Homo sapiens: one gene and its partner. The protein of the gene in region 2 purifies or fractionates together with the protein of the main gene of each other region. This does not show direct contact. Each region holds a gene or a part of one and is shown on either strand. Other genes may lie near its edges.

Region 1 (7,000 bases), 8.1 Mb from region 2:
GGCCTAGCTCATCTCTGAGGAGCCCTGCCTGCTCTGCTGTCCAGAGTCACCTGGAGTTGGGTCCCCTGATGTAGGCAGCACCCATAACTGACCTGTACTCCGCTCCCCAGCCTTTGACGAAGCTCATGCGGATGGTGCACATTCGGGTCAACTGGTAGACAGCCTCAAAGCCCTGGTTGACCGACTGGGCCAGGAGGGCAGCGAACTCCTGGTTGTTGAAGATCTTCAGGTTGCATCCTGCCAAAAACACAGAAACAGGGCTGTGGGGATGGAAGTGGCCAGGTCCGTTGCTCCCCTCCTGGATAAAGCAAGTCCTGGACCCCCTAGACCAGCCTCATTTATACAGCTCCAGGGACACATGGTGTGTGATGCATTTGCCACACACTCCACACTCAGTACCATGCAAAGGGAAGGCCAACCCAGTCCCTCCCCTTGAACCCATCTCCTCACTGGGAGGTGCCACTGACATACCTGCAAGGGGAGATGGAAGGCTGGCCCACAAGCTCCGACTCCCAGAGCAGGGAGAAGTCTGCAAAGAGGGCTTCCAAAAATAGGGAGATGGTGTGGAGAGGGGGGCCTTTCCTTGGGCAAAGGGACCAGGGGACAGAGAGATAAGGGACCTGGGCCAGGTTGCCCATGCTGTGTGGGGTCTGGTCACCCACCTAGGAACAGGAGCTCTGGCCGTTCCACAGCAGGCAGTGCCCCCAGAGACGGGCTGGCCGAAAGGCTACTGGGCCTGCCGTCCCCACAGGAAGCTTGGCAGAGGGCCCAGTGCACCCTCCACCTGGGCTCCTCTGATGAATACACCTGGTGCTGGGGCTAGGAGGTAAGGAGAGATCTGGGCCAAATTTTGGCCTCTGGGCACTGGGCTGGGTGGAGGTGACATTCACAGCTAAGTGAAGGTGTGCATCTGATTCTCCAGACAGTAAAACTAAAGACAGTCACAAATAAAGTTTAAAATAAATGTCGTTTGAAGTCTTACTGCCTGAGTGCCAGGAATGTGTCAACCAGAAAAATAAAGACAAAAGCACATGCTGGAAATAGCCAAAAGGTGAGCCGGGGTGACGCTTATGAATGAGCCAACAGCAGGCTCCTGTTCTTGCTGTGTGACTCTGAGCTGGTCGCTTTCTCTTGGGGACCCTGTGTCTCTGTATAATGAAGGGCTGGCCTCAGAGGTCCTTCCAGCTCTGACATTCTATGAGCTGACAAACAACACCACAGCCAACTCAGCCCTCACCCAAAAGATGGGGGTGGGGCCGGGGAATGGAAGAGGCAGAAGGCCAAGAGCGTCACTGAGCTTCCTCTTCTTCATTCTCTCCAAGGACAAGGGTGGTGGAACAGGGCTGAACCTGGGCCCTGACCCCCAGCAGAGCCAAGAAGCAGAAGAGCACCAAACTTGAGAGTCCATCAGCCCTAGGCCCCATCCCGGCTTGGCCACTTACTAGCTGTGTGCGCTTGGGCAGGTGGCTGAAACTCTCTGAACTTGTCTCTCAAAGCGTCTCCTTACTTATAGAGCCAGAGAATAACTGGTGAGGACTAAATGAGGTCAACGATCGGAATGTACTCTATAAATGCAACCACAAAATGCTCTGGAAACCTGGTGTGCTATTATCATTTCAGACTTTCTGCATTCTAAAGTTTCCCCTGCCTGTGGTCTACCACTTCTCCACTACCATCTGCTACTCAGTGGGCAGGAAGGGGCATGCCACACACGTGCCACAGGCAATGGCCTGGCCAGGTTACCTGCTCCACTAGTCTGTCACAGGCCATGTTCTGTGGGCTGCCTACACAGTGGCTGCACGTCCTGTGAAAAGTGGACTTTGGCTGGGGCTTTCTGCCTTGGTTTCCTGAGGAAAGAGGCCTTAGATGGGATCAGCCACCTGCCTGATCTTGCTGTCCAGGCGTGGCCCTGTCCAAACCACTCTCGGGGGTGCAGCCTGACACCTCTTCTTGGGGTACAGGTGGGATTTTTCAGGCTCACTCAGAAAACCCTCAGCAGTTCCCTAGAGTCAAACTCTCTGGTGTCCTTCCACGGCCTCATGCTGTTGTGCTTTTGAAACATTTCCCCTGACGGTCTCATACATGACCCTCCTCCAGCCAGAGAGCTACCCATCCATGTCCTGCCCTCCATTACCTCAGGCCCTTTGCCTGGGCTGCTCCCCCTGTCTAGAATGCCCTCCCTGTGCCTAGTGCCTACCTATCCTTCAGGATCCGGATGTTTCTCCTCCATGAAGACTTCCCTGATCCATCCCAACAGCTAAATGGGCCTTCTCTCTACCTGGGCTGCTGGCTTGGTGCTTGGCACCCGTCCCTTATATTGAACTCATCCGTGTCTTTGTCTTCTGTGCTCTGCAGGCCTGTAAGGTCTGCGGGGGCAGAGCAGGGCCGCATCTACCTCTTCATCCCCTACAGCACCTGGCACAGAGCCCTGCATGCTGTTTGTGCAATGAATGAGTGAAGAAAGGAAGCCATACTGCCTGAGCATCTACGCACAGGGCAACAGGCAGGTACCCACAGGTTAAAGGCAGACCTATCAGATGCTACATCTGCTCCCTGGAAGTTCAGGGAAAGCACAGTTAGATCTGTGGGCATAGAGAAAACCTAATCCAATCACCTCCAGATTGACAACGCAATCATGAGTGAGCAGAAAAGGTGAGAAAGGTGGACTCTCTCCAGCATCCTAGGCATGCACTCGGAGAGGGACCTCAAGGCAGGGGTGCCTGTGCGGCTCGTTTACCTGGTGGGATCTTGCAGACGGTGGCCGGGTGCCAGCCATAGCGCTGGTTACAGTTGGGAGACTGGACAAAAATAGCGCTGTCACTGAGGCACTCTGCGAAGACCTCCCCTCCGATGTAGTAGAGCCGCACGCCTCTTCCTACAGAGATTCAGGTTAGACTGGACAGGGTGCCTTTGCTCACACACAATGGCCCTGGGGCCACCTGAGGCTCGCAAAGGAGGCAGAACAGCAGAGCTGCTCCCAGTGACTGCCAGCTTCCCCAGGCAAACGGGCCCCAAAGCCCAAGCCTAAAGTAGGGGAAATGGGCACTGCCGGATTCCTAAAGCCAAGGGAGGCAGATGACAAGAGATGGGCACACAGGATAGGTCTCAGTGACAGCCTTTGCCACTGAGTAGGCATGGGCCTCAGTCAAGTTATTCACCCTCTGAGTCTTCGTTTGTCTCTACGATAGGGATGGGGGCCAGGCGCGGTGGCTCACACCAATAATCCCAGAGCTTTAGGAGGGCAAGGTGGGAGGATCACTTGAGGCCAGGAGTTCAAGGCCAGCCTGGGCAATGTAATGAGACTTCATCTCTACAAAAACATTTTTTTTTTAATTAACTGGGCATAGTGGCATATCCTTGTAGTCCTAGCTGCTTGGGAGGCTGAGGTGAGTGGATTGCTTGAGCCCAGGGGTTCAAGACTGCCGTGAGCTCCCATCACACCACTGCACTCCAGCCTGGGAGACAGAGTGAGACCCTAACTCCAAAAAAAAAAAAAAAAAGGGAATGATGATAACCTCTACCCTTGCAGGATTACTGTGAGACACACAGTAAGTGCCTGGTGTCAGCTTTTCTTGCTGCTACTGCTACTACTACCCCACTATTATTTGGTCTCTTCACACTCCAAGATTCAGAGATTCATTCAGTAAACCTGCAGGGCTCCTTCTGATGCAGCAGACACCCCAAGGAGCCCTTTATTGCAGGGATGGTTTAACGCTATGCCCTTATTTTTTTCTTCCCTCAATGCATTTTTCTAAAACATTCCAGAGGTTTATATCATTTACTTTTCTTTCATCTCTTAAATCCACTCCAGATGGACAGAAATTATTTTTAAATTGGCTCTGCAACTCAAACAGTTGCGTAAACTCTGACAATGAGCTCTTTGCTCGGCCAGGGGATGGTCCCTTCTCCTGCATGGCAAAGTCTCTGCTCCATTCCTGGGGAAGAAGCTCAGAGGTCAGAACACGGAGCCAGATATTACAGGCCCAGCATCCGGTAGGATGAACACGAGGTGACCGACCCATGCATCACTGGATGTCCCCTGTCCTGCCTCCTATTCCCACTACTGTCCCCTTCCTCCAACCACTCCCCATTTTTTCTGGCTTTAGTTCTGCAGGGTGCTGGTGGCTCAGAGTCCACAGGAGGGATGACTTCCTGGCTGTCCACAACTGTATCATGTCAGTAAGAGCAGAAGGCAGAGGTGGGGATGCGAAGACCCAGACCAAAAATGTTTGTTTCGTTTCAGTAACTTAAAAAAATAGGCCGGGCATGGTGGCTCACACCTGTAATCCCAGTACCTTGGGAGGCTGAGGCGGGCAGATCACCTGAGGTCAGGAGTTCGAGACTAGCCTGGCCAACGTGGTGAATCCCCATATCTACTAAAAATACAAAAAATTAGCCAGGTGTGGTGGCACATGCCTGTAATCCCAGCTACTCAGGAGGCTGAAGCAGGAGAATCACTTGAACCTGGGAGGTGGAGGTTGCAGTGAGCCAAGATTGTGCCATCGCACTCCAGCCTGGGAGACAAGAGCGAGACTTGGTCTCCCCGCTCCAAAAAAAAAAAAAAAAAAAATATATATATATATATATATATATATATATATTTTTTTTTTTTTTTAATAAAATATAGAAAAAAGCCAGTTGCAGTGGTATATGCCTATTGTCCCAGCTAATCAGGAGGCTGAGATGGGAGGATAGCTTGAGCCCAAGAGTTTGCGACTGGGCCTGGGCAACATAGCAAGACCCTATCTCTAAATCAATCAATCAATCAAACAGTGGTATGCCACCCAGAATAAGTATCTTTTTTGAAGTAAAAAACAAAAAGCGAAATGGGAACAACAGGTCTGGTAGTGGTGGCTGTCTGTCACTGACAATGAGGTCTCTGCAGAGCCGTTCCCTACCCTCCCCAACCCCCTAGACATCAGGTCCCTTTCCTAGAAAATGAGAGCACAGACCTAGGCCCATGGCCTCCAAACTTTTCTTCTCTTCACTACAGAATCAATCCTCTCTTCAAATGAAGTCTTCTGTGAGAGCCCGAGATATAAAGCAAGCGAGTGCAGAGGTGCCCTGGTTCACGTGGGACCAGGCTTCCCTTTGCTAACCTGCCCACCTCCTGAGTTTGCCGCAGGAACCCTTTGCCAACCCTTGGGGCTCCAGGACAAGGTCTGAGAAAACCTCACTCTGCCATCTCTCTACAGCCCTTCTAAGTTCTGACAGTTGTGATTCTGGATCGTAAAATCCTCTAAGCTTGATAACTTCATAAGCAAACCAAGTGATGCGTAACACAGCTTCATCTTCCTTAAACTCACAAAGTCATCTTTTACTTATGTTCTGGGGGCTAGAAGGCAGAAGGTTCACAGTAGTGGTGTTTGGATAGTGGACAATTCTTTTCTACCTTTTCTAAATTGTTTAGAATAATGATACATGAAAATAAGAGAAGATCACTCTTCCAACAATGACTGCCTACTTATCAACCTATCCATCTGTACTTTCAGAGTATTTTTATTTAGAGGATTTCAGCCAGGCACGGTGGCTCACGCCTGTAATCCCAGCACTTTGGGAGGCCAAGGCAGGTGGATCACCTGAGGTCAGGAGTTCGAGACCAGCCTGGCCAACATGGAGAAACCCCGTCTCTACTAAAAACACAAAAATTAGCTGGGCGTGGTGGTTGGGTGCCTGTAATCCCAGCTACTTGGGAAGCTGAGGCAGGAGAATCGCTTGAACCCAGGAGGCAGAGGTTGCAGTGAGGCAAGATTGTGCCATTGCACTCCAGCCTGGATAAAGCAAGACTCTGTCTCCAAAAAAAAAAAAAAAATAGATTTCATATGTTGCCTTTCTCATAGACGTTCCCTTCTTGATCCCTTAGATGAACTATTTTCCTCTGTGGCTTCCAGATTTTCTGAGATTATATCTTTGAGTGGGAATGATCAAGTGGCCTGAACACTACCTGTCTGGCCCCTAAACAGGGCAACAGAGAGTGTAGGGGACTTGCTGGGGCAGTGAGTCTTCCCCCATGCCCAGCAGGAGGCAGAGCACAGCTAAGGATGGACGCAAGGTTCCCTTCAGAGGCTGTGTGTTCAGGCCTGGGGCTGGGGGTGGGATAGAGTGGCAGGGGCAGGGTGGGGGGGCGGGGAATGGAGCCACCCCATACCGATGTGTCTCCGTGTCAGCTCCACTGCTGCATTCCTGTTGACATTGGAGAGCAGCCCTAGGCAGAAGCGCTCCGAATTGGAGGGGTCGGTGAAGCCATCCACAGTCATGGATGGCTGCGAGGCGTGGAATGTCTCCCCGACGCGCTGGTTCAGCTCGTAGTAGGAGATGGAGCACCAGAAGGCCGGCTCGCAGTAGGTAACTGGCTGCAGGTCTGTGGACACAGGGTGGGCTACTGGGTCATTGGGTGTCCCAAGCCCCATGCTCCCTCGATGGGGTCCCATGGACACTCTGGAAAACCATTTCCCCGCATTTCAGAGGGATTATAATCTCCCTACCCCATGCCTTTTATCGTATAAAACTGGCAAGAGCCACCAGAACAAGATGCTCAGGTGTCTGGAGGAGATTCCATCAGCCTTGTGTGTAAAGGGCCATTGATTTCTCTTTTTATTTATTTATTTATTTATTTATTTATTTATTTAGCTCATAAAGGCCCTGCCCCGCCTGCTTGGCCTTGACTGGATGGAAGGAGTCTTCAAGGAGGGGCTGGGCCAAACCTGAAGAGGACCAGGGGCCACCCAGTACCTGGATGAACCTGGGACAGCCACTGCGTGTACTCACTGTGGGGCAGGCCACACCTCCTGCACAGTCACCTCTCAGCCTCTGTTGCAAGGTCCCCAGAGTAACCCACATTAATCCCTGCCCCTAAAAGGGCTTTCAGATTTTGGCTCTGCACAGCCTTGGGGGCAAAAACTCCCAGCCTGTGGAGCAGCAGCTTCCAAGCCTGCAGCAGCCGAGTGGGTTCCCAACAGCGCCCCATGTTGGCGCAGTGGACACACCAGGCATCATCTGC
Region 2 (7,098 bases):
TCTACCACCTAAGCTAGAGTGCAGTGGCACAGTCATAGCTCAGCTTTGAACTCCTGGGCTCAAATTATCCTCCTGCCTTAGCCTCCTGAGCAACTGGGGATTACGGGAATGAGCCTCACCCAGCTTATAGTTACAAGTTACATTATTTCTAAAGACTTCATGGTTTTTTTTGTTGTTGTTGCTGTTCTTTGTTCTTTTTTTAAAAAAAGAAAACAACAACAACAAAAAACAGTATTTCACTGTGTTGCCCAGATGGACTCAAACTCCTGGGCTCAAGCAATCCTCCTGTCTCAGCCTCCCAAGGAGCTGTGACTACAAGTGCATGCCACCATGCCTAGTTGGATTTCAGAGTTGTAAAGACCAATGGAAGTAGAAGAAAAAGCAAACTTGACTTTCTTTTTAAAAACGTAAAACATACGTTGGATGCTGCATCATCCTCCTCCTTTGAACTTCCATCCTCTGCATCACTTCATGAGGATGCAGTCTCTGTGCTGGAGGTGCTGTGGCTGGAATATGGTGCGAAATTGGCTGGTGTGTAGGAGGAAGATGCTGAGGGATTGGTGCAGCTGTACTGGCTAAGTGAGTTGGTGGTGGGGGTGCCACAGGATGAGATGTTGCATGAGAAGATATTTGAGAATGGAAAGCATGTACAGGATGAGGAATAACATAATCCACTTGAGGCGGAGGCTGAGTCTGAGGAGGGGGGTTTCCATGAGAATGCGGGCAGGCAGAAGCTTGATGATGAAGTGGCCTTGTCAAAGAGGCATCTGCAAGAAAAATATTTTGAGTATGTTACATAGGCACCATGCAGTTGAACATATATTGCTATTATACATTCCTAGTGTACTTTTAAACATATTAGTATTTTATTTTTATGAATACTTTATCAAGTAAAGTATTCAAGCAACTGCTCAAGCAACTTGCTCCCTTCTTACAATAATCTTGGATATCTTATGTCAATATATATATTATAGTTTAACTTCACTCACAGCTTCACAACATTCTATTATATGAACACACCAAAATGTACTGACAAAATCCCCACTGATAAAAAAGAAACCCAAATGCTATGATAAATATCTGTGTATATGCTCACTCCTGCACTCACTCTTTCATTTACACACATGTATACACACATATATAGAGATCATTTCTGTAGCATAAATTCCTGTAAGTAGTTGTGGGACAGAAAGAAAAAAATAAATTTAGATGCCAGTTAATAAAAATACCCTTTCCAAAAGGTTGCCATAATTAATATTTCCATCAAGAGTACACAGGAAGGGCCAGGCACCGTGGCTCACACCTGTAATCCCAGCACTTTAGGAGGCCAAGGTGGGCAGAGTCACCTGAAGCCAGGAGTTCGAGACCAGCCTGGCCAACATGGCGAAGCCCCGTCTCCACTAAAAATACAAAAATTATCCAGGCATGGTGATGCACACCTGTAATCCCAGCTACTAGGGAGGCTGAGGCAGGAGAATCGCTTGAACCTGGGAGGTGGAGGATGCAGTGAGCTGAGATCATGCCACTGCACCCCAGCCTGGGCGACAGAGTGAGACTCCACCTCAAAAAAAAAAAAAAAAAAAAAAAAGGAGCACACAAGAAGGCCTGATTACCCCCACATTACCACTAAATTTTTAAAATAAATGCCAATCTGAGAAAAATCTTTTATTTCTTGACCGCTTGTATGTGTTCTCAGAATTATCTATTTACATGCTTAGCCTATTGTATTACTCACCTTTTTCTTATTGACTTGTAAGTATTATTTGCATATATGGAAGCTCTGTCATAATAGGGTGTAAACATTTTTCCAAACTGTCTCTCTCTCTCCCTACCCCATGTCATTATTCCTGTGCTACATTAAGGTGAAGGAGACCTATTTGTTTCCCATCAAATATGGACGTAAAGTCCTTAATAAGATGGCTCCTACCATTTCTTCATTCTACATCTTTATGTTTCAAAGTGACTGCTGAAAAATCTCTCTGAGGAATACACATCTTCCTTACTCTTAGAGATGTGCATCTACTTGACATGTAAAAAAAAAAAAAAAGTTTGTCTTAGATTTCAATACAAATTTCATTTTATTGGAAGATGTTCTTGGAAGTCTGATATAGACCAACAGCCATTCTCTAGTTTCATTACAGAAGTTTTCAATTTTTAATGCTTTTGATTCATTCAGCAAGGGCAGAAGTTAGGTAACAATAACTCAACTATATTTTCAAAGTATGCCTTGTTAGCATGTACTTAAAGGAAACTTTCAACAAATCTAATTTTTAAAAGTTGCAAGACAAATTTTTAAACCAATTTTCTAAAAGTTCTGTTTTCAAATCAATGCTTTACTCTTCAAGAAGGCACAAAGCTCAGTAGCTAGCTCTTAATCATAAAAAATGAATCCACTATGTTTTATGATTGTTAACTATCCTTTCTCAAATTCACAGCATTTTTTCTAGTTGCAAAGTTTTATATTTGTGTAATCATTATACAACATTCACAAATATTACAAAGCAAGAAGTTTTGTTTCAGAATGAGTCCATTTATTTAACTACTCTTTAGACATCACTTTAATTCACTGTTTAAACAAAACAGGTTGCTGACCATTTTAAGAGTGACATATTCCACATTCCCAAAAACCCTTTCCCTTCCTCTATTTGTGTTCCCAACAGTTAAAAAAAGTTCTTGATATTGTTTCCTAGACGTTCAACATATCACTTGCAGATGTAATACTATGCTTTATTCCAACATTTACTCACTGCATTCCCATAGCTTTACAGTGTAGACCATTTGCTTTATGATTAATCGTAAGTAGCCTTACCTATACCTCTCTTTTTTTTTTTTTTTTCTTCTTTTGAGAGGGAGACTCGCTCTATCGCCCAGGCTGGAGTGCAGTGGTGTGATCTCAGCTCACTGCAATCTCCATCTCCCAGGTTCAAGCAATTCTCCTGCCTCAGCCTCCCGAGTAGCTGCGATTACAGGCACCTGCCACCACACCCGGCTAGTTTTTGAATTTTTAGTAGAGACAGGGTTTCGCCATGTTGGCCAGGCTGGTCTTGAACTCCTGACCTCAGGTGATCCACCCGCCTCGGCCTCCCGAAAGTGCTGGGATTACAGGCGTGAGCCACTGTGCCTGGTCTTTTTTTTTTTTTTTTTTTTTTTAGAGACAGGTTCTCACTATGTTGTCCAGGCAGGAGTACAAGGATTGTTCACAGGTGTGATAACAGCACACTACAACCTTGAACTCCTGAGCTCAAGCAATCCCCATGCCTCAGCCTCCTGAAGAGCAGGAACTACATGCTCATACTACCAAGCCAGGCCTTACATATCTTCTCAATACATCTTATTAATAAGATAGTAAAACTTTTAAATAATAGCATTTCAAGTACAGTTGTTTTATCACTTCATCAAGACCACAAACCTTTCAAAAGCAGAGAGAGACATATTCTTACTCCACAAGTATTGTTGTTATACATATAAATGTACTTATGAAACAGCAAACTATTCATCTGGATCCAAGTATCACAATTTATAGCCAATAGGAATTATTCCCATTTTACAAGTGCAAAGAATGTAAGGACAGAGAGATTAAATAACTTATCCAAAGTCACCAAGCTAATTAGTCAGAGCTGGGAGGTCAACTCGAATCTATCCAATTCTAAAGCTAGTGCTCTACTATGCCATATTGTCTTCCCCAGTTCATTCTGGATGAAAAAAGGTTTAAGAACCACATGTTTCACACGTGAACTAAAGCATACGGGAAATGTTTTTTAAAAGCACGGGCAAGTTGGGGAGAGAATACACACACTCCTTCAGGAAAAGAAGCCCAAAACAGAGTTATCAAAATGTCTCTAACAGAAAATAATACAATTTAAATTTCCTACCTTCATTCTCATTAACACACTCCTAATGAGGTGTGTAAATTGATGCAGCCCCTTGGAGAGAAAACTTAACAGTATTTATCTGAAAGTTTAGCCCTCTGACATAGCAATCACATTTCTAGGAAGTTAAACTATACATAAACTCAACCATAAACAACTTTAATGTCCATCAACAGAAGACTGATTTAATATACAATGGATATTATGGGGGTATTAAAAACCAATGAGCTAGATTTTTATGTGCTAATATGCAAAAATCAAAATATACTGTTAAATTTAAAAACAAAAAACAAGAAGTAGAATATGTTTGATTTCCCATTTTTAAAAGGTAAGACATATACCTATCTATGTGTACAAAGAAAATTTCTAAAAGTTTTTATAGAACAGTTACTACCTCTGATATATTAAGATTAGTAAGCTGTGCGAGGAAGCTTTTAAATTCTCATTTTATATGACTGCACAGTCTGAATGTTTTAGAATATAACAAATGAATCTAAAACATGTATTTATTAGGACATTTTGAAAGGAATGAACTTACTCATAAACTGCTTCAGTATATTATTTTTAAAGGGGAGGGGCAGAAAATTAAGCATATTGAATTTCAAATAAAAGATGATCAATCAAAAATGAATACCATCAAGTATTACAAAATAGGCCATGCATCACACTGGTGCTCATACAAAGAATTGGCCCATTGGTCAATGCTTTGTAAAAACTTGCTAAATGTTTTCCAATTTATACTTTAAATTTTAAGTTGCATTACTGAGAAGGTAAATAATATATCACCAGTTTCACTGTACAGATTCTGGGTTGATTCCAGCTGCGTCTGCACGATGCAGATTTTTTTAAATGACTGGAGTAGAAGAAAAAATCCAAGAAGATATGTAAGTGAAAATTACCACTTGCCATGTAATCAAAACAAAACACAAATTTCCTTGCTGACTTCCTGGTTCATTTCCAGCATGAATTTTTGGTGTTTATCAGCCAAGTGTTTATTAAGCTTTCATTTCATTATTAGCTTATGATCTAACAAAATAGTAAATATGTTACATAGCCTTAGAGTATTTATCATTTCTTGTGATATCTAACGAATTTCAATTTCTTTAGAAAAGGCATGGCTGGTTCTATTTTATTTTTATAGAAACGGGGTCTCACTATGTTGCCTAGGCTGGTCTCAAACTCCTGGCCTCAAGCCATCCTCCTGCCTTGGCCTCCCAAAGTGCTGGGATTACAGGAGTGAGCCATCATGCCCAACCATGGTTATATTTTAATTGCCTGCATCAAATGAATATAAAAATCCTTTTACAACTCCCAAAGCTTGCTGTTATGTCTCAGCTAACTGCTTGAGAATTCTTAAAAATTTACTTTACTGTGCCTAGAAATACTACTCAACTTTCACATTTCTTCAGCTATACTAAAGAACAAATCTAAATTCCTTAAAACTTCCATTCAATCCACCTCAATTACATAATACTAACATGGGAAAAAATATACCCTACTCTTAAGCCAAGTAAATACTAAAAATTTAAGAACTGGGATTAAAGGTTATTTCATAAGGAAGTACAAAATGCTTCATTGACATGACTCTAGATTTTGTGTCCACTAAGTATATACTTACAAGGGGGTGGCATGTAATGTCGACATGATGAGAGAGAGGGCTGTGGAGGGGGCTGGGGCTGGGGCTGCGCAACCATGCTTGATCCATAGCCATCTATTGATGATAAAGGTTGACTTGGGGCAGCAGCAGCGGCCTGATGGCCAAAGATTGCAGCTCGGGAGGAAGAAACAGGGCAGCAGGGGTCAAATGCAGATGCTCCATGAAAACTGCCACTTCCATGACTTCTGATACCACTGTTGCTCAGGTCCACTGGCAATGCCTGCTAGATAAAAAGGAAGTATATTTTATCTTTCTAAAGTTTGGTCAAATATTTCATGTTATATTATAAAAGTATTCCTAATATAACCAAAAAAACATAATCTTTAAATTAGTTTGAAACCAGGAAGATTCTTAGTATGAAGAACCAGTGAGCACCAACAAAATACTTGGTTATCTTGAATATAACAAGTGTATCCTGGATTGTGAAAACTGTAGTGGTTTTACAGTTAAACCAATTTTTAAAAATCAAGCATAAGATTTTATCACAAGATGAACAAAAGTTTAATATATTAAAATCTTTTTGTCTTATAACAAATACATCTTAGAAACTTTAAAAATCATACTTCTATATTCTCCTTTATCCCAACATTGTGACTAGTACTTTAGGACTCCTTGAGAAAACATACTATCACACTACTGAAAATATTAAGGTTCTAGGAAAAATCTTGTCTGCCCCAAGTTCCAAACTGTATAAAGCAAGAATTCAATTAAAGTGCTAATAAACAAATCTACATTATTCAAAATAACAATGGACATAAGATTTTTCAGACTAAATCATGAATTACCTTTGCCACTCAAAGCTTTCACTTGTTCAAAAACATAAGAATAAAAAAAGTTAAAGCACTGCTTCCTTTTATAGGCATATTTATTGCATTTTATAGGCACATTTAGTGCTTTGCAGATGTTCGGGGTTTTTTGTTTTATTTTTAATAAATTGAAGGTTTGTGGCGACACTGTGTCAAGCAAGTCTATCAGAGTTATTTTTCCAACAGCATGTGGAAACTCTGTGTCTGTGTCACATTTTGGTAATTCTCTTAATATTTACATTTTTCTCATTATTATTTTATCTGTTATGGTGATATTTGATGAGTAGTCATTGATGTTACTATTATAATTGCTTTAGGCACCAAGAACTGTGCCCATATAAGACAACAAATTTAACAGATAAACATGTGTGTCCTGACCAGATGTTTCCCCATTACCCTGCTCTCCTCTCTTTGGGCCTCCCTATTCCCTGAGACACAACAACATTGAAATTAGGCCAATTAATGGCCTCTGGTATTGAAGTGAAAGGAAGATTTGCACATCTCTCATTTTAAACCAAAACCGAGAAATGATTAAGCTTAGTGAGGAAGGCATGTCAAAAGCCCAGAGAGGCCAAAAGCTAGGCCTCTTGCACCAGTTAGCCAAGTCATGAATGCAAAGGAAAAATCCTTGAAAGAAACTGAAAGCACTCCAGTGAACACACAAATGATAAGAAACTGAAACACCCTTATTGCTGATCTAAAGAAAGTTTTAGTGATCTAGATGGAAGATCAAACCAGCTACAATATTCTCTTAAGCCAAAGCCTA

What was found. The genes of interacting proteins can lie anywhere in the genome.
Region 1: the proteins of RNF111 (region 2) and SMAD3 purify together in Homo sapiens (affinity purification with western blotting; 5 studies listed by BioGRID). This does not show direct contact.

The regions. Positions count from the first base shown.
Region 1 is NC_000015.10:67,180,602-67,187,601, reverse strand, and holds part of SMAD3 (mothers against decapentaplegic homolog 3), read right to left. Parts: intron 6,362-7,000; coding exon 6,149-6,361; intron 2,876-6,148; coding exon 2,738-2,875; intron 583-2,737; coding exon of another isoform or gene 472-582; intron 238-471; coding exon 93-237; intron 1-92. UniProt on the Homo sapiens protein: Receptor-regulated SMAD (R-SMAD) that is an intracellular signal transducer and transcriptional modulator activated by TGF-beta (transforming growth factor) and activin type 1 receptor kinases.
Region 2 is NC_000015.10:59,074,605-59,081,702, reverse strand, and holds part of RNF111 (E3 ubiquitin-protein ligase Arkadia), read right to left. Parts: intron 5,750-7,098; coding exon 5,488-5,749; intron 768-5,487; coding exon 419-767; intron 1-418. UniProt on the Homo sapiens protein: E3 ubiquitin-protein ligase. Required for mesoderm patterning during embryonic development. Acts as an enhancer of the transcriptional responses of the SMAD2/SMAD3 effectors, which are activated downstream of BMP.